Linked DNA regions of Homo sapiens. The protein of the gene in region 1 interacts with the protein of each later gene in a pairwise test. Each region holds a gene or a part of one and is shown in the gene's direction. Other genes may lie near its edges. The genes, in order: CELF1, R3HDM2, CUX1, CXXC5, IFI27L2 and GRAMD1B.

What was found.
Region 2: the proteins of CELF1 (region 1) and R3HDM2 interact in a two-hybrid assay, tested with the Homo sapiens proteins (one large-scale study listed by IntAct).
Region 3: the proteins of CELF1 (region 1) and CUX1 interact in a two-hybrid assay, tested with the Homo sapiens proteins (one large-scale study listed by IntAct).
Region 4: the proteins of CELF1 (region 1) and CXXC5 interact in a two-hybrid assay, tested with the Homo sapiens proteins (one large-scale study listed by IntAct).
Region 5: the proteins of CELF1 (region 1) and IFI27L2 interact in a two-hybrid assay, tested with the Homo sapiens proteins (one large-scale study listed by IntAct).
Region 6: the proteins of CELF1 (region 1) and GRAMD1B interact in a two-hybrid assay, tested with the Homo sapiens proteins (one large-scale study listed by IntAct).

What each region holds. Positions count from the first base shown.
Region 1 is NC_000011.10:47,480,133-47,483,632, reverse strand, and holds part of CELF1 (CUGBP Elav-like family member 1), read left to right. Parts: intron 1-100; coding exon 101-180; intron 181-776; coding exon 777-938; intron 939-3,500. UniProt on the Homo sapiens protein: RNA-binding protein implicated in the regulation of several post-transcriptional events. Involved in pre-mRNA alternative splicing, mRNA translation and stability.
Region 2 is NC_000012.12:57,256,654-57,260,043, reverse strand, and holds part of R3HDM2 (R3H domain-containing protein 2), read left to right. Parts: intron 1-984; coding exon 985-1,154; intron 1,155-1,906; coding exon 1,907-2,054; intron 2,055-3,390.
Region 3 is NC_000007.14:102,195,126-102,198,625, forward strand, and holds part of CUX1 (Homeobox protein cut-like 1), read left to right. Parts: intron 1-381; coding exon 382-478; intron 479-1,508; coding exon 1,509-2,180; intron 2,181-3,500. UniProt on the Homo sapiens protein: May be involved in intra-Golgi retrograde transport.
Region 4 is NC_000005.10:139,647,097-139,651,148, forward strand, and holds the start of CXXC5 (CXXC-type zinc finger protein 5), read left to right. Parts: upstream 1-1,252; 5' UTR 1,253-1,749; intron 1,750-1,854; exon of another isoform or gene 1,855-2,085; intron 2,086-2,238; exon of another isoform or gene 2,239-2,632; intron 2,633-3,892; exon of another isoform or gene 3,893-4,052. UniProt on the Homo sapiens protein: May indirectly participate in activation of the NF-kappa-B and MAPK pathways. Acts as a mediator of BMP4-mediated modulation of canonical Wnt signaling activity in neural stem cells.
Region 5 is NC_000014.9:94,127,281-94,130,864, reverse strand, and holds IFI27L2 (interferon alpha-inducible protein 27-like protein 2 precursor), read left to right. Parts: upstream 1-1,260; 5' UTR 1,261-1,300; coding exon 1,301-1,307; intron 1,308-1,573; coding exon 1,574-1,603; intron 1,604-2,189; coding exon 2,190-2,351; intron 2,352-2,872; coding exon 2,873-3,066; 3' UTR 3,067-3,084; downstream 3,085-3,584. UniProt on the Homo sapiens protein: Plays a role in the apoptotic process and has a pro-apoptotic activity.
Region 6 is NC_000011.10:123,433,269-123,436,768, forward strand, and holds part of GRAMD1B (protein Aster-B), read left to right. Parts: intron 1-2,165; coding exon of another isoform or gene 2,166-2,199; exon of another isoform or gene 2,200-2,447; intron 2,448-3,500. UniProt on the Homo sapiens protein: Cholesterol transporter that mediates non-vesicular transport of cholesterol from the plasma membrane (PM) to the endoplasmic reticulum (ER).

The sequences.
Region 1 (3,500 bases):
TCTGTATTGCTAGCATGATAGTCAGCACATAGTAGGTGCTCAGTTAATGTTTGTCAGAGAAATAAATGAATGCATGAGTTACTGACTCTTCTCTTACCAGGTTGTGCATTTGTGACTTTTACAACAAGAGCCATGGCACAGACGGCTATCAAGGCAATGCACCAAGCACAGACCATGGAGGTAGGGAGCAGATAGGTGATGGGGAAAATTCCTCAGCTTGGGAATGCTGGGACAGTTGGCCATTAAAGTCCAGCAGCATGTGCAGCATCTGATTGCCCAGAAGGTTAAACAGCCAACATCTTAAAGTTAAAAACCACTGATTTCTTTAAAATTAACGTATTGGAAATGCTCTCCCTACCCCTTTTTTTGAGATGGGGTCTTACTTTGTCACCTGGGCTGGAGTGCAGTGGGAATATCATGGCTCACTGCAGCCCCAACCACCCAGGCTCAAGTGATCCCCCCTACCTCTGCCACTCAAGTAGCTGGGACTACAGGTGCACACCAGCACGCCCAGTTAATTTTTGTATTTTTTTTTAATAGCGACCGTTTTGCCATGTTGCCCAGGCTGGTCTAAAATTCCTGGGCTCAAGTGATCCACCCGCCTCAGCCTCCCAAAGTGTTGGGATTACAGTCTCTTCTCTCTTGTGTCTATCATGAGGAGAATCATTTGGCAGTGAATGAAATTAGAATGTAACCTGCATGTCATCCAAAAGGAAGATTTTTTTTCTTCTTTTCAGATGGAGGAATTTGACCCTTTCGTTATGGTCTTTTCACAGGGTTGCTCATCACCCATGGTGGTAAAATTTGCTGATACACAGAAGGACAAAGAACAGAAGAGAATGGCCCAGCAGCTCCAGCAGCAGATGCAGCAAATCAGCGCAGCATCTGTGTGGGGAAACCTTGCTGGTCTAAATACTCTTGGACCCCAGTATTTAGCAGTGAGTCTTTGTGGTTTGCTTTCTGCAGACTGTGCAAGCTCCCAGCTGTTCCTTCTTCTGCTGTCCCTAGCCAACAAACACAGTGGCATTTACAACTTTTGGCATATAGAAATTATATGTAAAAATTCAGGTAGTACTATTTCTTTTAGTCCTGTTAGTCTCTTTCTCTCTCTATATATATGTATCTCTGGACATGCATCTCTGGTTATATCTTGAGGCTTTTGCTGCAACTAAAGTGAATTCCTGGTTTCCCGTTTTAAAGATTTAGAAACATCTTGTGTCCTTGCCTCCAAGAAAGAAATTCCTGAGGGAATCTTAACTACCAGTGTCTTTCTCCATATCTCTTTCTACCAGATGTAGAGGGCATCATTAAAATCCTTATTGAGTCTTTCCTAAAGAGTATGATAAATGTTTCTTTCAGCGGACTTGAGAGATCAAGAGATTTTTTTTCTTTTTTTGCTTTATTTATTTATTTATTTATTTATTTTTTGAGACGGAGTCTCACTCACTCTGTCACCCAGGCTAGAGTGCAGTGGCACAATCTTGGCTTACTGCAACCTCCACCTCGGGTTCAAGTGATTCTCCTGCCTCAACTTCCCAAGTAGCTGGGACTACAGACACACACCATCACACCCAGCTAATTTTTGTATTTCTAGTAGGGATGGGCTTTCACTGTGTTGGCCAGGCTGGTCTCGAACTCACGACCTCAGGTGATCCACCTGTCTTGGCCTCCCAAAGTGCTGGGTTTACAGGTGTGAGCCACTGCGCCTGGCGGAGATCAAGAGATTAACATGAACATTTTTAAATGAGCATTACAGGTGTATATTCAAGTTTACTACATTGTAAATAGACTTCCTTTAATTTGATCTCTCTGTTGTCGTGAGCCAAAAGAAGGTTGTCTAGTCCAAAAGAAGGTCTCGCCCCAATTTGTGATTTAGATTTACTAGGTCTGCAGTGTATATGTTACAGGGGATTATTAATGGAAAAGAATTGGGCCAGCACAAGACAGTTAAAACCACCCATTTGTGAGTCAAAGAGGAAAAAGGTCATCTTAGGCTATTAATGGTGAAACCACTAGATTTGTATGGATGATACAAAAATATTCACATAGAAATAGCTAGTATAGTCATTTATTCCTCATCATTTCAAGTATTATTCTGTATGGAAACAGACAAAAGGCACTGATTTCTGTCTCCCAGTACTGAATTTTGGTTTAGTTCCAGTGGTTTTCATATTTCTAATATCTTATAAGAAATCCCAGTTTAGGCCGGGCGCTGTGACTCACGCCTGTAATCCCAACACTTTGGGAGGCTGAGGTGAGTGGATCGCCTGAGGTTGGGAGTTTGAGACCAGCCTGGCCAGCATGGTGAAACCCTGTCTATACTAAAAATACAAAAAAATTACATGGGTGTGGTGGCAGGTGCCTGTAATCCCAGCTGCTCGGGAAGCTGAGGCAGGAGAATGGCTTGAACCTGGGAGGCGGAGGTTGCACTGAGCGGAGGTTGCAGTGAGCCAAGATCGCACCATTGCACTCCAGCCTGGGCAATAGAGCGAGACTCTGTCTCACAAAAAAAAAAAAAAAAAAAAAAAAAGAAGAAGAAAAAAAAAAAAAACCCCAGTTTATCCTAGCTAGTATTTCTCTGAAGTTTTTTTAAAAAAATATAAAGAGTTGGGGTTGTTTTGTTTTGTTTTGTTTTGAAGCCTCGCTCTGTTGCCCAGGTTGGAAAACAGTGGCGCAATCTCTGCTCACTGCAACCTCCAACTGCAAGCAGCTGGGATTACAGTCATGTGCCACCACGCCTGGCTAATTTTTGTAGTTTTAGTAGAGACAGGGTTTTGCTTATGTGAGCCAGGCTGGTCTCAAACTCCCGACCTCAAGTGATTTGCCTACCTTGCCCTCCCAAAGTTCTGGGATTACAGGCGTGAACCACTGGGTCCGGTTATATTTCAACAGAAAAAATTGTTTCTTAGTGCTGAAACATTGCTTATATGTTCAGAAAATTCAGGGAGGTTTTAGTCATCTGCAGAAATGATAATGCTTTGAAAATGGTCTACATGCTATGCATTTGCTTTTCTTAGAGACTTTTGGAGCCCCCCTTTAGGGAAGGTTAACCTTTTTGTTGTCATTGCCACTACCAGCAAGTACATGATGGCATGTGTTGAGAGCTGTGTTCTCTTTGTTTTGGTTAGACATGATTCCTGCCCTAAGAGCTAATCTCATTTGGAGGGAAATGAAGGGACCAAGTACAGTATTCACCGTCCACCAGTTAGGACTGAACACATAGCCCAAGGTGTTTAAGAAGAAAAAGGCCAGGCGCGGTGGCTTATGCCTGTAATCCCAGCATTTTGGGAAGCCGAGGCAGGCAAATCACCTGAGGTTAGGAGTTTGAGACCAGCCTGACCAACATGGTGAAACCCCGTCTCTACTAAAAATACAAAAATTAGCTGGGTGTGATGGTACACACCTGTGGTCCCAGCTACTCGGGAGGCTGAGGCAGGAGAATCGCTTGAACCTGGAAGGCGGAGGTTGCAGTGAGCTGAGATCACCATTGTACTCCAGCC
Region 2 (3,390 bases), on another chromosome or scaffold:
AGTCCACCTGCCTCGGCTTCCCAAAGTGCCGGGATTACAGCCATGAGCCACTGTGCCCGACCTTCAGTAGCTTCCTGACTGGTCTTTCTTGCTGCTGGTCTCTCTCCCTAGCTATCCTACATTTGGCCGTTTGAGTTAGCTCTCCAAAGCATAGGTCTCCCAACACCTACAGGATAAAGTCCAAACATCTTACCAGAATATGCTTCAAACTCTGACACCAACTATTTGTTTAATGTCTGACTCTTTAATAGACTGTCCATTCTATCAGGGCAGGGACAGCCTTGTTTTTTGTACACTCAGTGCCCAACATAGGAACTAGCACATAGCAAATGTTCAATAAGAGTTTGTTAAATAAACGTGTCTCATCTCCTACTGCTTCCCCTATATGGCCCCTGTGTCTTAGCACCTTGAATCATTTGTCAGTTCCTGAATATGACATACATCTCCATGCTTAAATGCTTAAAATGCTTCCCAGCTTACCCCATTCTTGGCCAAGATGTACTTTCTGGGTCTGGCATAGTGAAACTATGTGGATTTATCTTCTCCAGAACAACCAGAGGTCACTGCCTTATCTATAGCCATTACCAGAAAAGCCTGCACGTGTCTGCAGCCCTGGCCTGTGGCCCAGACCTGGACCCGTACCATGCCTAGACATTTGAGCAATCTGACCTGGGCATTTGGTTATAGCCAGCGTTGACAGAATGGAGTAGTTTTCTGCCAAGCATACCAAAGTACCCCTCACCAGGTGAAGGCCAGGGGAGCACTGGCATCTGGGGCTCATATCCCTTCCACTCAAACTTCTACTGGTTTGAGAAGATGGAGTCAGAAGCCACATCAGCAGCCATCTCAGGTTCCTGGCAAGACGTAGCTTGAGTGACCCTGAGGCAATGGGTGGATTTATTTGCTGCTTTCCCACTCAGGGCTAGTTGGAAGGCAAAAATACAGTTGGAATTTGTAACCAACTGCTTTCTTCCTGCCCTTCAGGAGTGTCACCTTCTGGACCAGGTGTAGTGGTCATGCAGCTGAATGTCCCTAATGGACCCCAGCCCCCTCAGAACCCATCCATGGTCCAGTGGAGTCATTGTAAATACTACAGCATGGACCAGCGGGGGCAGAAGCCTGGAGACCTGTACAGTCCTGACAGCAGCCCCCAGGTGAGTGCAGCACTCAGCCTTGTCTTGGCAAGGAGATGACCGTATTCTTCCCGGGGCGCAATGTTTGCTATTGACTGAGCAGCCTCTTTTACATGTCTTTTCCTGGGTACTTTCTGGGGAGAAACACAGGAAGTAGACAGCATCCTCTTTTAAGGAACCTAATATATAAGGTGGCAGGTGGGATACACACTTGAAAATGCTCAGAGAATACTTAAATCAATATGCCAGAAATGGATATTAAAATAACATAAATGGGCCAGGCATGGTGGCGCACACCGGTAATCCCAGCACTTTGGGAGGACAAGGCGGGAGGATCACTTGAGGTCAGGAGTTTGAGACCAACGTGGTGATACCCCGTCTCTACTGAAAATAAAAAAATTAGCCAGGCGTGATGGTGGGCACCTGTAATCCCAGCTACTCAGAAGGCTGAGGCAGGAGAATTGCTTGAACCCAGGAGGTGTAGGTTGCAGTGAGCCAAGATTGCACCACTGCACTCCAGCCTGTCTGGGTGATAGAGCAAGACTCCATCTCAAAATAAATAAATAAATAAATAAATAAATAAATAAATAAATAAATAAAATAGCATAAATGAATTAAGGACTGAGGTTGCAGTTTGAAGGAAGAGTCTGACTTTGGCAGAGTTCAGCAAGAGAAACTTATTTCCTGAGAGAGGTGAATTTTAAGCCAAGCCATAGGAATATCCAGAGGGTAATGTTTGATGTTTATGTGACGTGTGCTCCTCTTTTCCACAGGCCAACACACAAATGAGCAGCAGCCCTGTCACATCTCCTACCCAGTCTCCAGCACCCTCTCCTGTCACCAGCCTCAGCAGTGTCTGCACAGGACTCAGTCCCCTGCCTGTCCTCACACAGTTCCCCCGGCCTGGGGGTCCAGCACAGGGTAGGGGGTTAGATTAGTGCTGGCTGCTATGGAATTCACCTTTCACATCCCATTCCCAATTGCAGAGATTGAAAGAGTAACAACAGGCAGAGGACCAGTGTAGATGATCCAATTCTGGGAGTTAACTCTTCCTTTAACATCCCTGTATAGGCCTTGGACACTTGCCCCTCTCTAGTGCTGTCCATGCTTAACTTTCTTTAGCCTTCTTTACATACTTAGTACTTACAACCAAGTAGGTAAAAAGAGCTGGAGAAAATAAGTTCACTGAACTTTCTAATGACCAAAGAGTTTAACCTAATATCAGTACCAAGTCTGAGGGCTGGGAATGTGGGATTTTGTAAGAAACGGTATGGTCTTAGAAAAGGAACCACTAGATTTGGTTTCAGAAGTTCCAGTCTCACCACTAACTAGCTTTGTGATGTTCAACAAGTTACTTAAACTCAGAAGTAGACCTCACTTCCTAGTCTGTAAAATGGGGTTAATCACACATAAGATGGGAATTTTATCTGCTTTCTGCCTTAGCTGTCACAAGCAGTATAAAAATGAGAATGTAGTTTAAAAACTTTAAAGTGCTCTGAAATGTAATATTTATCAATAATAGGTAACACTTAATGGTACTTAATATGTACCAGGCATTGCTATAAATGCTTTACATGTCTTATATTTGTTTAACCTTTCCAGCAACATTAATGAGGGAAAAAAATACCCAACGTTAGATCATATTTCCAGTAACAGAGCCACTATTTTAACCCAGGCAGTCTGGCTCCACGACTATGCTCTTGTCTACTGTGCTTATACTGCCTCTCACATGAGTCAGAAACTTGAACCCTGGGTTTAGGGGTTGGGAGAATCTATATAAGAGATAAAAGACAGCCGGGCGCAGTGGCTAACGCTTGTAATCCCAGCACTTTGGGAGCCCGGGGCAGGCGGATCACCTGAGGTCAGGAGTTCAAGACTGCCTGGCCAACGTGGTGAAACCCCATCTCTACTAAAAATACAAAAAAAAATTAGCCAGGCGTGGTGGCACATGCTTGTAATCCCAGCTACTCGGGAGGCTGAAGCAGGAGAATCGCTTCCCAGGAGGCAGAGGTTGCAGTGAGCCGAGATCATGCCATTGCACTCCAGCCTGGGTGGCGAGTGAAACTCTGTCTCAAAAAAAAAAAAAAAGAGAGATAAAAGACATTCATAAGGGTCTGTAAGTTTCTTCCCTGGTCATTTTCATAGGACTGTTGTCTACAGTGGATAGAGCCTTTCTTCAAGGATGATGGGACCTAGTAGTCCCATTTATCTGTGAGACACAGTTGAGAGCCAAAGGATTTAGGAAGAGAAACAACTC
Region 3 (3,500 bases), on another chromosome or scaffold:
AAAAAAAGAAAAGTTCCCTTTACAGTAACGTTCGGACAGACGTTTGTGGCTTGGCAGCCAGTCTTATGGCCAAATGAGGCACGGGCTCAGGTCGCTTGAGTTTGAGAACAGATGAGAGAATAATTAATTTTTTTAGGAGCTGTGGAAGTCTAAGAAGGAAAATGACTTCAACTAGAATCCATTCTTTCTAAAGGGAACTTGTTTTCCACGTGTGTTAAACGACTTGGGGGGAAATCAGCTGTCCGCAGCCCACTTCCTAATCAGATCGAGAGCTGGGTGGGAACGCGGACAGATGGAGGGAGGCAGGGCTCCAGGCCTGGTGGCCCCGGGAGCGGGTGAGTGGCCGGCCCCGCAGTGAGACCCCCGCTCTGCCCCTTCTAGGATGCGGCCAAGCCCCTGGAGGTGCTGTTGCTGGAGAAGAACCGCTCGCTGCAGTCCGAGAACGCCGCGCTGCGCATCTCCAACAGCGACCTGAGCGGTAGGTTGGCCGGGCTTCGCGCGTGTGCGGTGGTTGGTTCGCTTCCAGGGGTCGGTCGAGGACGAGGAAGGTGAATCGTGAGTCTGGACAGATGCATGGCCAGAGAAGCGCCGGTTGACGAGAACCTTTGACTAACGCGTGTTGGGTGCCCTCCTCCTCACCGCTCCTCCCTTCCCTTCCCCGCCCTGCTTAAAGCTGGATGTCGAGACGGGCCAGCCGCACAGGCTCTGCGGAGGTCAGTTAGGGGCAGTGCGGCTGGAATCCCCGGGAGGGACAGCTCGGAGGACGTCGGCCTTTCTGATCTGTGTCTGGTTGTGCTGCACAGAGGCCAGGGGCAGTGTGAACCCAGCCTCGCTCTGGTGGTGTTTTCAGGGACAGCCCCGGGCCTGCCGGGTCCAGTAGAGGTTTTTCTTCCTTGGTCAGGTTTCCCCTGGGGACGCGTCCCCCATCCTTAGCCTTTCTTGGCTCATCCCCCAAATGGTGGCGTCACTTGACTGTGCTTCTGGTTTGGGCAGCTGGTAAAACGCGTACAGGTGTCTCGGGCTCTAATGGTATTGCATTCTCAAAACGGGCGCGCGCCTCCACATCGAGGGGGCTCGGTACGGTGCATCGCCTCAGAGCAAGAGGTGCGAGCGAATCCATTGGTCCTAAAATGTCAGTGTTTGCTGCTCCTCCGGCCGGGGCCAGCGGGCCCAGTAAGAGGCCCGCGACCCGTCAACTCTTCCCTGTGTGTGTCACCAGCTCCTTGTCACGCTAGGAGTTTGAGTCTATGTCAAGGGGACTCTCCAGGCTGCAACGTACAAGAAAGGCGCAAACATGAATGCATGTTGCTTGTTTTGGGAAGCCTCGTTTGGCTGACTTACAAATTTAATCGGAAAACAAACCAACCCACCTCATTGGCCCTTGTAAAAAAAACCTGCACTTTTTTTTGTTTTCCCTTTTGCGGGGGCAAACTTTTGCATTTTGGTCTTGGTTTTTTTTTCCCCCTTTGGAATCCCCCATAATGCATTCTGTTTGCCCTTCCTTGTAGGGTCAGCCAGGAGGAAAGGGAAAGACCAGCCTGAAAGTCGGCGCCCGGGATCTTTGCCGGCCCCCCCTCCTTCTCAGTTGCCCCGCAACCCGGGGGAGCAGGCTTCCAATACTAATGGTACACACCAGTTCTCACCAGCGGGGTTAAGTCAAGACTTTTTCAGCTCATCCCTGGCAAGCCCCAGCCTACCCCTGGCTTCTACAGGAAAATTTGCACTAAACTCTCTTCTCCAGCGGCAGCTAATGCAGTCCTTCTACTCCAAGGCTATGCAGGAAGCCGGAAGCACAAGCATGATTTTTTCAACAGGTCCATACAGCACAAACTCCATATCTTCCCAAAGTCCATTACAACAAAGCCCAGATGTCAATGGCATGGCCCCATCCCCCAGCCAGTCAGAAAGTGCTGGGAGCGTCTCCGAGGGCGAGGAGATGGACACTGCAGAAATCGCCCGGCAGGTCAAAGAGCAGCTGATTAAGCACAATATCGGACAACGTATTTTCGGACATTATGTGTTGGGACTGTCTCAAGGGTCCGTGAGCGAGATTCTGGCCCGGCCCAAGCCATGGAATAAACTGACTGTTCGTGGCAAGGAGCCATTTCACAAGATGAAACAGTTCCTCTCCGATGAGCAGAACATCCTGGCCCTCCGTAGCATCCAAGGCAGACAAAGAGGTGAGAGACTGGCGTTGGGTGGCGCCAGCGTGCGAGCCCGTCACAGAGTTGCACATGTGTGTGTGCATGCGTGCGTGTGTCTGTGTGCGTGATGAAACATTTGTGCATCACATCAGGTAAAGTTCTCTTTGCTTCTGCCACGTCCAGAGCTCAAGGGTGGCCCGGCATGAGTTAAGGCTGTTAGATTTGGGAGATCTGGCCTTTGAAACGCACTCAGCACTCCATACTTAGGAAACCCTATAGTATTTCAATACTAGAGATCGTATCAGAGGGAATTGCATTACATGATGTATAGCGTCTCCGTATGCTTAGTGGCCGCGGGTCCAATTGGCCTTGGGTGCTGGTCTCACTTTTGGGAGGAGCCCTTAAGTCCCCTCCAGCCCCATAGCAGCAACGTTGACTGGGCTCGATCCTCATGCAAAGCTGGTTCTGTAGGGAGAACACATCACAGATGACACCTCCCCTCTTCCCACCCCGCAGAAGAGGGCGTGTCCCATGGCCACCTTCCCTACATTGTTCACGGTCCATTAGTGATTTGTTTAGCATTATGAGTAAAACAGGCCTGGCTTGAGTAAAATACACAAAAGTTTTATTTAAGCACCCTTTCTACCCCACCCTCCGTAAAAAGATAAAATGTCAGTCACATTCATAATTTCAAAAAATCCCAGCCGGGCACAGTAGCTCACGCCTATAATTCCAGCAGTTTGGGAGGCTGAGGTGGATGGATCGCTTGAGTCCAGGAGTTCAAGACCAGCCTGGGCAACATATATTTTGTAATCTTTTGATCTACAAAAAAATCAAAAGGTTAGCTGGGCGTGGTGGCGTGTACCTGTGGTCCCAGCTACTTGAGAGGCTAAGGCAGGAGGATGGCTTGAGCCCAGGAGGTGGAGGCTGCAGTGAGCCATGATTGAGCCACTGCACTCCAGTCTGGGCAACAGAGTGAGAACCTGCCTCAAATAAAAAAACAAAAAAGAAAGTTCCTTTTCTGTTTAAGACCAGGGGATCAATGTGCCACATCAACAGAGCTATTGAGAGGTCATTTCATCAGACATGTTTGAAACACCCTGAAATTTAGACTCAAACAGAGCAGGGAGATGTTTTGAACAGCATCAATTTGCACCAAGAAAATGCAGTGTTTTATGAGGATGTTAACCGAAATTGAATGTCTTTGGATGATTAATGCGAGCTTTGTTCTGGGGGCTGGCGGGTGATCCTCCTTCAAGGCAGTCCTCCCTCCCATGGACCTCCCTGGCCTCAATGCCGTAGGTCGCTACTTAGATTTCCCCCATCTCCTTTTGCAGCAGAGCCACGGCCTCTGCG
Region 4 (4,052 bases), on another chromosome or scaffold:
GCAGAGCAGAGGAGAGGAAGCAGCGAGGTGGGAGACAGTTTCGCTTCTCCCACCGAGGCCGCGCCTGTGGCTGCAGGCGCCCGGATCGCCACAGTTAACTCCCTGTTATCTGGGCCCCAATCGATCTCAGGCTGTAACGTTTAACCCTAGGCTGACTTCCCCAACCGCCCTCCCCCTCTCCCTCCCCTGCTTGGGTCTGGGGACTGCGTTTTCTTCGCCTCGCAGAGGAAGGTCGGCCTTGCACAAATCCGCCCCCACGAATCCCAAAGAATTGGAGAAAACTTCCACTTTGGGATTATATGCAGTTGGGATTATATGAGCCCGGGGCTTGCACCATGGGTACGTGAGGTGAAGACATCTGCAGCAGCAGGATTAATTAGCCTAAGATGGGCATATGGAGGCCACTGATGGAGTGAAAGCGGGATATGCGGGCCCAACTCTGTCCCCACTGGGCGCCTACTCTGGCAAGGCTGAGTTTTCCTTCTGTCTTTCAATCAGTACCTATTGAGCGCTGCTGTTCCAAGCATTGTTTCGGGTTTTGAGTGCGTAGGCCATGGTCTCAGGGCACCAAATGTACGTAGTCGTTTTAGCCCCGGGACTCAAGAGTTGAGGCTGATGCCTGCCTGAGAGATAAAATATCCTTTCTCGGATCAGTTTCCTCACCTGAGAAATGGGAACGGGAATCTCCGCCCCTTTTCTCCCGGGGCCCTAGTGCCCACTGAATCCATTAAGGAGCTCTTGGAAGGGTGGGGTCTTGGAACACGCGTCTACCTCCCAGGACCCTCGACTAGGAATCTCTGGCCCGCCGCGCACCTGAGCTGGGGGGCGCGGCCAAATTCTCCCTCCCGGTCCTCGAAGCTTCTGGCCCCGCTCTAGAGGGGGCAGAAAGATAGCAGATTTCCCCGGAGGTGCGTCTCTAAACCCAGACCGCCTCACCAAAGCGGGGAGGTCGTCCTTTTTTTTTTTTTTTTGTAAAGTTGCGGGAAATAGGCGAAGACGGGGCGCGCAAGGGAGCTGAGCCTGGGTGGACCGCGTCAGGGCGCGGGGAGCTCGAGGCGCAGCGGCTGCAGCTCCGGCCTCAGAGCCCGCGGCGTCCAAGTGGCCCGAGCTGCGCTGGGAGGGAGGCGGCGGGAGGAGGGAGGGGAGCCGAGGTGGAGGGGGTTGGGGGGAGGAGGGAGCGGCGAGTCCGGTCCGGGTTTTGCCGGCAGCCCCCGGGCAGCGTTCATAGCTCCTGCCCGGGCGGGCGCGCGGCGGCGGCGGCAGAGGCGGCTGAGCCTGAGCGGGGATGTAGAGGCGGCGGCAGCAGAGGCGGCACTGGCGGCAAGAGCAGACGCCCGAGCCGAGCGAGAAGAGCGGCAGAGCCTTATCCCCTGAAGCCGGGCCCCGCGTCCCAGCCCTGCCCAGCCCGCGCCCAGCCATGCGCGCCGCCTGCTGAGTCCGGGCGCCGCACGCTGAGCCCTCCGCCCGCGAGCCGCGCTCAGCTCGGGGGTGATTAGTTGCTTTTTGTTGTTTTTTAATTTGGGCCGCGGGGAGGGGGAGGAGGGGCAGGTGCTGCAGGCTCCCCCCCCTCCCCGCCTCGGGCCAGCCGCGGCGGCGCGACTCGGGCTCCGGACCCGGGCACTGCTGGCGGCTGGAGCGGAGCGCACCGCGGCGGTGGTGCCCAGAGCGGAGCGCAGCTCCCTGCCCCGCCCCTCCCCCTCGGCCTCGCGGCGACGGCGGCGGTGGCGGCTTGGACGACTCGGAGAGCCGGTAGGTGTCGGGCCACGGCCCTCCCTCGACCCCCCCCGGAGGCCGGCCCCCTCCCCTTCCCCGCCTACCTCCCTCTCCTCCCCCGGGGTTCGGTGCGCGGCCGGGGCCGGAGTTCGCTGCAAGTCGGCGGAAAGTTTGGCTGCGCGGGTTCCCCCGAAGTTCAGGTGCGGAGAGCCGGGGACGGGGAAGGAGGGGTCCGTATTTGGGAGGGGCGGGGGGCGCCCGCACCGTAAGCCGCGGAGCCCCGGAGCCTGGGAGACCTAGCGCCGGTGATCGCTTGGTGGCCGCTGCTATACCCAAGCCTCCCTAAGCCGCAGTATGCTCGGTCGCAGATCACTGAGTTCAGACAAAAAGAGGGGTTTTAGGGTCTGGGACGGCGGCTTGGGCGCCGTGGAGTGGGGCTGGGACGCTCCTTGCGGGGTGCCGCCCCCCTCCCCCCCACTACTCCAGTTCGCGGGCGCTGGGGCAGCGGGCGCCCGGGGTCCTCACCTCTTGGCGTTGGGCGGGCGCTCAGCCTGCGGGGGCGGCTGCTTGTAGATCTCTGGCGCGCACTCCCCCCATCAGACCCCGCTCGCAGCCCTGTGTTGAGGGGCGACGTTAACTGCTCTGGGCGCCCTCGACCACGCGTGGCTGAGCCTCCCCCACCACTTGGAAGAAGCGGCGGCTACTTCTGCATTTTTCCTCCGGCTCCTCGCCCCCGCTGCCCGCGGGGTGCCCGGCGGGCTGATGAAGTTTGACCTTTTTTTTCCATCAAAGTATCTCCCCCACCACCACGGTGCCCCGCGGCCCCTCCCTCCCTCCTTTCCCAGCCTTGGGGAGTCTTTTGAGCTGTCTCCCGAGCCCCGCGTGGGCCACGCAGCGTGCAGAGCCTGGGAGGGAGAATGGGGGTGTTCCTCTAGCTGCGGAACTGTGGGGGGCGTACGTCCCCGGCGCCTGCCACGCTGCACTGGCCCCAAATTTACCCATGAAGTTCGGCCCGACCCCCCTCCCCTTCGCTTCCCCGGAGCGGAGTGAGGGGCTGAACCGCCGCGAGAGGAATGTGTTAATTTTCTGGCTGGGGGAAGTTGTCCTCGCCCGGAATGGGCTGCTTTCCGGCGGGGAGCGCGGGGTGCGCCTGGCTTTGTTTATTTGTAGGATCGACGGAAAGCGAGTGACCCCGGTTTTTAAATGGGGGGCCACCTTCGGGACCTGTCAGAAGAGCTGAAACGCCCAAAGTGGGAGCAAGATCTCTTTTTGTTCTTTTTTCCCCCCCGGGAATCTGAAGGGGTGCGCGGAGTTGGGCTGGTGCCTCGGGCTGCAAGGAAGCACCAGTAAATTTGGGGGGTTCTGTAGTGACTCATTCGGAAAGACCCGCTCCCTGAAGTCTCCCGCGACGGGGGTCTGAAGGTTTGGCAACCGCGCCCTCCTTTGCCCCCTGGACTTTGGGTGGTCTGAGAGTCGCGCCTTCGGATGGGGGGGGAGCTAAGGGGGTGACCAGCGGACCAGACTCCTGACCCCCACCTTTCCTCGCGCGGCGGGCGCTGTTTGGAGCCCTTGGATTTGTGGTGGGCCCTGTCCCCCCCACCCCCGCATTTTCTTTGGAAGCGTTGGGGAGGGGGCGTGTGTGAGATCGCTCGGCCCTCGCCCCCGCCGGAGCCGCCCCAGGGCCGCCGGCAAACAGAGTCCCTTTCAAGTTTTCCGCTGGGGCCGCCTGGCGGGGGCTGCGAGCGCGGTCGCTGCGGACTTGTTTGGAGCGCGATTTGAACGCCCGGCTCCACCTCAGCTGCCCCAGGCCGCGGGGTGGGGGGCGTCTGTCCTTTGCAGTTGGGAGTATTTAAATTAGACGTCTTGGGGGACCTACTGGCCTAAGCTTCACCTGATCCCCCTCCTGAAAGATGCCCGTGCCTTGGTTTCCAACCGCCACTAGAAAACCGGGAACTGAGACCGAAGCCCCCTCTAAACCCCTTTCTGAGAGCCGTGCGGGGAAACTCAGGCCGGCGGGCTACCTACCCGTAACTGCGTATTGTTGATTTAGCAGTTTCCCTAGATGAGAGTCAGGCTGGAGCTTGGGGGGGTGGGGAGTGGCCCGCTCTGCAGCTGTCACCCCCCTCCCAGAACGGAAATTGTCCTCTCCTTGGGGAGGAGGGAGAGGGGGTGATGGTTTGATTTTTGCCCTGGGAAGAGATGGGAACAGCTGAAGGAGATTGGCCTCCGAGTTCCCAGCCAGCCCCCGGAACTTGGGTAGAACCCCCCTACCCCTCATCCTCGCAGTAGCTGGGTCTCTCCCAGGGACGCCCCTAGTCAGCCTTGGCCTCCCTCTCCAT
Region 5 (3,584 bases), on another chromosome or scaffold:
AAAATACTTCAGTAGAACAAGGATCCAAGAATATGAGAAGATAACTCACAAAATAAGGAGTACATGAAGCTAATACACTTAAAAATAGTTTAGTCTCACTAGTGGTGAAGAGAAAAGTATATTAAAATAAGTCACCTATTAAATCAACAAAGGGTTTTTGTGTTATTGTTTCTTAACGACAAAGCTAATTGTTAGTGAGGAGTAGAAAAAAAATAGATTCTCTCACATACTGCTGGGAAAATGTAAACTGATGACAATAGTTTTGGATGCCAACATAACAACACAGGTATCAGGTGCTGTAAAAAATGCACAGTTTCTGACCCAGCAGTTCCACCTCCAGGAATATACAGAAAACACTTGTGCCCCATAATGTTAGCACTTCATGCTAAAATAACTTATCAGAGCAAAAATTAGACTTTAAACACTTAAAAGGGAGGGCTGATACGTTGAACCCAAGGGGATGGAATATTTAATGACAAATATCATATTGAAGTTCTGGAAAAGGCAAATGGGCGGGGATGGTTGCCAGGAGCAGGGCGTGGGTGACTCCAAAAGCGCATGAGAGGATTGATGGAGGAGGGGGCGGGGCATGTAAAAAAAAAACGGTCTGAATCAGAGCCGTCAAAGCCTCCCAGACTCACAGAAGTGTACACTACAAGGGTGAATTTTACTTTGTGTAAATCACCTACACCTTAATAAACTTGACTTTTTAAAAATCTTGATGAAGGATATTAAGCAGCCTGGGGAAATCTAAATGGTTGATTAACTAAAGTAAGTAATTTGCAAGGCAGAGTGTGAAGGGAAATTGGCAAGTGGTGGAGGGGGTGTTTACATATTCAGGGGAGACATAGGCTGGGAGCAAACGTGCCAGAATGTATTTATATTAGTGTCTCTCTGGAAGTTAAACATCGTTTATTAAATTAAACATCATTTTTCTCCTTGCATTTTGTTTGTTTCTTTGTTATTGTTGTGTTGTTTTTGGTTTTGGTTTTTGCAGCAAACAGCTCTTCTGTTATTGGCGGGGTTGGAGTGGGGGGCGGTGCTACAGCAATTTGGAAGCGGGGCTCACTTGCTATGGCTTCCAGGTTCTTTCCAGCGCTTTTCTCTTCGGTAGATCCATCAAGCCGGGACAGGCGAGCCGGGGAGTCGCGAAGGCTCCCGGGCGAGCGGGGTGGGGCGGGGGGCGGGGCCTGCGTCTCTCTAGGGCAGAGTAGGCGCGTCCCTACTGGATGGAGGGGGAAGTAACACCCCAAGAACGCTGTCATTTCCTGGGCCAAGTTGGGACCCGGACGGCCTCACCATGATGAGTGAGTCTTGCTTCCCCAGGGGGCTGGCGGGCTGGGCTGGGGGCAGGCTTCCCCAACCCCAGCCCAGGAAGGGACAGGGAATAGCTTCATTCCCTGACTTCATCAACCAGCTGACCTACTGACTCCCTCTCCCTCCCTTCCTCCCTCCCCTTCCCTTCCTCCCTCCGCTCCTTGCTTCCCTCCCCCTCCCTCCCTTTCTGCCCTTCTCTCTCCTCTTTCTCCCCTTTCCCATCTCCCTCTGCCTTCCCCTGGCACTCTCTCTCTAGAACGGGCAGCTGCTGCTGCAGTGGGAGGAGGTAAGTTACCCGGATCGCCTGTCTCCAGGCCCTCACCTAGCCTGGTCCCCGGGCTGCTGGGAGAACGCAGAGATGAGGCGCTGGGCTGGCTCTCACCCTCCACTTCCGAAGCTGCCCGAGTAGCCTGAGTGAGCCACAGCATCAAAATACTCCAGGGAAAAGCTCACTCCCATTCCTGACCCAGCTTCTCTTCTAGTCCTTATGTCGAATAAGCATAGGAGGAAGATCGTTTGAAAGAGGATTTGCAGCTAAACTCCACGTGGCTTATTTCACATTTATGCGTGGACACACACACACACACACACACACACACACAAATTTGAGACCAATGAAGGGTATTGACTTCCTCAGCATCACACAGCAAGTTAGAGACAAACCAGGGCCATGGCTGGTCCTTCTATGACATCTTTGCTTCACCTGGCTCCACACTCCACCTTTTCTTCACCAGAAGACCACTAAGTTGCCATCTCTGTATTGCTCAAGCTGACAGTCTCCGGAAACTGTCAAGGAATTCCTAAGCGGGGGGCGGGGGGAAGGGTCCCTTCTCCTGAGCCCACCTCTGCACTCAGCTTCTCTCTCCCCACAGCCCTGGCAGTGGGGGCTGTGCCCGTGGTGCTCAGTGCCATGGGCTTCACTGGGGCAGGAATCGCCGCGTCCTCCATAGCAGCCAAGATGATGTCCGCAGCAGCCATTGCCAACGGGGGTGGTGTTTCTGCGGGGAGCCTGGTGGCTACTCTGCAGTCCGTGGGTAAGTGTCCTAGACAGGACCACCAGAGCTGCGAGAAGATCCAGCCCTGAGGCTGAGCCCGAGGGAAGCTCTTCTCACCCTGAAGTTCCGTGACCCTCAGCTTCCTGGGTCTTCAGTCTCTCCCTCACTGTCCCCTCTTCTGGCTCCTTCTGAGTGAGGTTTGGGGTAGGAGTGGAGGGGTGATGGGGTGCTGGGTAGGGAGAAGAGGAAAGGAACCTAGGCCAAGAGCAATGCCTGGGTTCTGACACCTGGGTGACCTGGGCAAGGTCCCCTGTCCTCTCTGGGCCTCAGTGGCCTCCTGTGTAAAGTGAGGGGCTCTGTAGCTCTTAGGGTCTGTCTGTGGATGACTCTCCCTCTGTCTCTCAGTTTCCGTGAATTCACCCCTGAGCTGTCTTTTAGTTGCCTCTAGCAGCTTCTACCCATGGCAGAGCCCTGGGATTTTCAGGACCTGGAGGAGGGATCCGGGTGGGATTTCTGGGCCACTGCCCGACCCCTGTGCTCATTCTCTGTCTCCTCCACAGGGGCAGCTGGACTCTCCACATCATCCAACATCCTCCTGGCCTCTGTTGGGTCAGTGTTGGGGGCCTGCTTGGGGAATTCACCTTCTTCTTCTCTCCCAGCTGAACCCGAGGCTAAAGAAGATGAGGCAAGAGAAAATGTACCCCAAGGTGAACCTCCAAAACCCCCACTCAAGTCAGAGAAACATGAGGAATAAAGGTCACATGCAGATGCATCTCCCTGTTTTGCTTCTTGCAGCTCTGGTTGGTGTTCTGAGCTGGAGGTTTCCAGTTCTCCCTCTCTCCTAGACTGCCCTGTCATGGAGGGGCAGAGGGAGGTGGTTGGCCACGCAGATAATCGGTAGGCAGAAGGCTTTGATTGGTCTCAGCCTTACGGAGATGGGCCGTGTGACCCAGGGCCATTCGTGGGCCTTTTCTGGGCCTCAGTTTCCCCCTTATTCAATGTTGGCATTGTCACAGGCTCCTGTTGGGAGGCAGGGGTGAGGGGTAGCCAGGGCACTTCAGGAACCACTGACTGTAGAGCCCTCTGTTCTTCATTAATGGCACTAGATACCCAGAATGAGCAGGACACCATCCTTCCCTTGCCTAACCTCAAAGTCTTGTCAGAAGGCCGATAAGCAAGCCAGCAGGAAAAGACAATGTGTCCAGTGTTACATGCAGGCTCTAGGCACTTTGAGGGGAGGAGGCTGAGTCAGGAATGGTCACCAAAATGTGG
Region 6 (3,500 bases), about 76 Mb from region 1:
TCGGGAGGCCAAGGCGGGAGAATTGCTTGAACCCGGGAGGTGGAGGTTGCAGTGAGCCAAGATCGCGCCATTGCACTCCAGCCTGGGCAACAAGAGCGAAACTTCATCTTAAATGAATAAATAAATAAAGTAGTTTGTCATGGCTTGTCGGCTTTTCCCTCCAATGTAAAAGAAACTAAAAGAGACCTTCTTTTGATCTTGAGATTCTGCCATATATACTGAGGACAAAATATGGTAAAAAGAGCCGGGTGCAATGGCATGGCCTGTATTCCCAGCTACTTGGGTTGTGGTGTGAGGATCACATGAGCCCAAGAGTTCAAGGCTTTAGTAGGCTATAATGGTGCCTGTGAATAACCACTGCATTTCAGCCATGGTGAGACCCCCACCCCCAACGCTTAAAATGTTACGTGCGTGTGTGTGTGTGTGTGTGTGTGTGTGTGTGTGTCTTTGTGTGTATGAAGAAAAAAATCTTGCATTGCTGGCTAGGATGGGGATGACAGTAGATTTGGTTAGATTTAGGAAGGTATTCCTGGTTTCGAGAGTTGTCTATGTGTGTAGTGGAACCTTCATTTTGTTGGATTTGGGGACATATCCTTAAAATTTGGCAGGATTTTCATCTAGATGTAGTTCAGGCAGTTATTTTAAGTGGTGACTTTTGGATTAGAAGAACCTATGTATCAGCCGGGCGCAGTGGCTCACGCCTGTAATCCTAGCACTTTGGGAGGATGAGGCAGGCAGATTGCCTGAGCTCAGGAGTTAGCCACCAACTTGGGCAACACGGAGAAACACCGTCTCTACTAAAAATACAAAAATTAGCCAGGTGTGGTGGTGGACACCTGTAGTCCCAGCTACTCGGGAGGCTGAGGCAGGAGAATTGCTTGAACCTAGGAGGTGGAGGTTGCAGTGAGCCGAGATCTCGCCACTGCACTCCAGCCTGGGCAACAGAGTGAGACTCCGTTTCCAAAAAAAAAAAAAAAAAAAAAAAACCACCACCAACAAAAAACAAGAACATATGTATCTGAAAAGGCAGACTCTGGATTCAAATTCAAATTCGTGTGACTCACATCTACTCTTAGCTACTGTTATACTGCCTTCTGTTGGAATCTATTTGGATTGTGTGTAAAACAAAGCCCCATCATTTTTAGGCCTCGAAGATGAAAGGCTTCCTTCCAAGAAAAGCAGCAATCAAGTGAATAGGTGCTCGTAGATACCACCAAGTGGCCTGAGAAGGAATTGGTGGCGGGGTGTGGTAGCTCATGCCTGTAATCCCAGCACTTTGGGAGGCTGAGGAGGCAGATCATTTGAGGCCAGGAGTTCGAGACCAGCCTAGCCAACATGGCAAAACCCTGTTGCTACTAAAAATACAAAAATTAGCTGGACATGGTAGTGCGCGCCTGTAATCCCAGCTACTCAGGAGGCTGAGGCATGAGAATTGCTTGAACTTTGTGGGCAAAGGTTTCAGTGAGCTGAGATCACACCACTGCACTCCAGCCTGGGCGACAGAGCAAGACTCCATTTCCAAAAGAAAATAGAATTGGCATTTAGAGGCAATGGAGTGCAGGGAACATTGGACTTAATATCAGAAGACAGCTGTATATTTAAGTTCTATCATCGATTAGCTATGGAGATTAGCTTGAGCATTTCACTTTACCTCCATGAGTTTCACCTTCTTCATTTGTGGAAGAGGATCTCTGTGGGTTAATGGGAAGTCTGAAGAGTAGTGAATGTGAAAATGTTTTGCAAACTTCCTCTTGCTGTGCAAGGGTGAAGGCTTATTTCATTACTCTGTGAGTCTCTCACATGGAATGGATGTTTGCTTAAAAGTATGAGGTTACATACTCACGTGTCCTGGAGCAGCACCTGAGCCTCCTCACACAATTCAGGATTTGGAAATGATGGTTGGAAAATGGCTCTGCTCTGGCCTGGATTAGGGAGGATTAGCATACCAGGCCCAGCATGACGTCTCCACATTCCCCACCCCAAATCTCCTGCTCCAAAAGAGAGAAAAACACCTTTCAGGCTTGCTATGAAATTCAGCGTGATGTGGTAGAAGTTAAGTGGCTGAGAGGGCCATAGCTTGTGGATTTCTTTTAATTTTTGTTTTTTCATTATTTGTTTCATTATTTGTTTGTTTGTTTGTTTTTTTACTTGTCACTGACTTGAAGCTCAAGCTTGCGGATTTTCACTGCACAAAGTTGAAAATATGAAGAGGATTAGGAGACCCTTTTCTTCTCCTTAAACCCTAGGAAGGAAGAAGTGGAACAAATGGTAAAGACAGCATGGCTTACTAACTTTCCAGTGTTCACTGGAATACTCCAAGACCAATCATGTTCATCTTTGTATCGTCACAGCACTGTACCTGACCTCTTACAGTGATCTATAGATCTATAGATGTTTGTTGATGAGTTAATAATGAGTAAATAAATGATTCCTTTTTCTCTACTGTTTAAAGTGAAATTCTTTTATTCATGAGTGTGGGAAAATTTCCAAAAGGAGATGAGTACAGAGCTGAGTTTTTAAAAACAGCTTTATTGAGATATAATTTATATAATATACAATTCACCTATTTAAAGCATAATTCAGTGGTTTTTAATATATTCACAGCTATGTACAACCATCACCACAGTCAGTTTTTAAAAACGTTTGTTGCCCCACAAAGAAACTCATACTTTTTTTTTTTTTTTTTTTTTTTGAGACGGAGTCTCCCTCTCTCACCCAGGCTGGAGTGCAGTGGCTCAATCTCGGCTCACTGCAGCCTCTGCCTCCTGGGTTCAAGTGATTCTCCTGCCTAAGCCTCCTGAGTAGCTGGGATTACAGAAGCTCGCCACCACGCCCAGATAATTTTTGTATTTTTAGTAGAGACAGGGTTTCACCATGTTGGCCAGGTGGGTCTTGAACTCCTGACCTCATGATCTGCCCACCTCAGCCTCCCAAAGTGCTGGGATTACAGGCATGAACCACTGTGCCTGACTGAAACTCATACTTTTTGGCTAGCACCTTCACCCTCTCCATCCCATTTCCCCAGCCCTAGACAACCACTGATCTATAGAGAGCTGAGTTTTGAAGGGTTAACAAATGCCTATAGGTGAAAGCAGTTTGGATGTGTTGGCTTGAAGATAGAGATGGATGACCAAATGTGATCTTGTTGAGGAATGTGGAAAAATGAAGGTGGTGAGGCTGACAGACCGAAGGTGATTTATGCCAAAGAGTTTGAATTTCAATGAATCACTCAGTCATCAAACAGGTATTGAGATCCTATATGCAGAGCGCTTCCTAGGCAAAGTGAAGTCAATTCAATGAGGAGCTGTCGTAGATTCTGGAGCTTGGGAGAGACACTCTCAAAGTGTTGCTCGAGGCAACTACTTTCTGCTGTTCCGTGTAGTGGGGAGGAAGCGTGGGGAGGTGAAGGCCTGGAGTCTTGCTCTTTTCTTTCAGTGGTCTAACTGCAAAGCATCATCTTAACTACCATTGAACATAAGACGGCACAATTTTTTTTTATT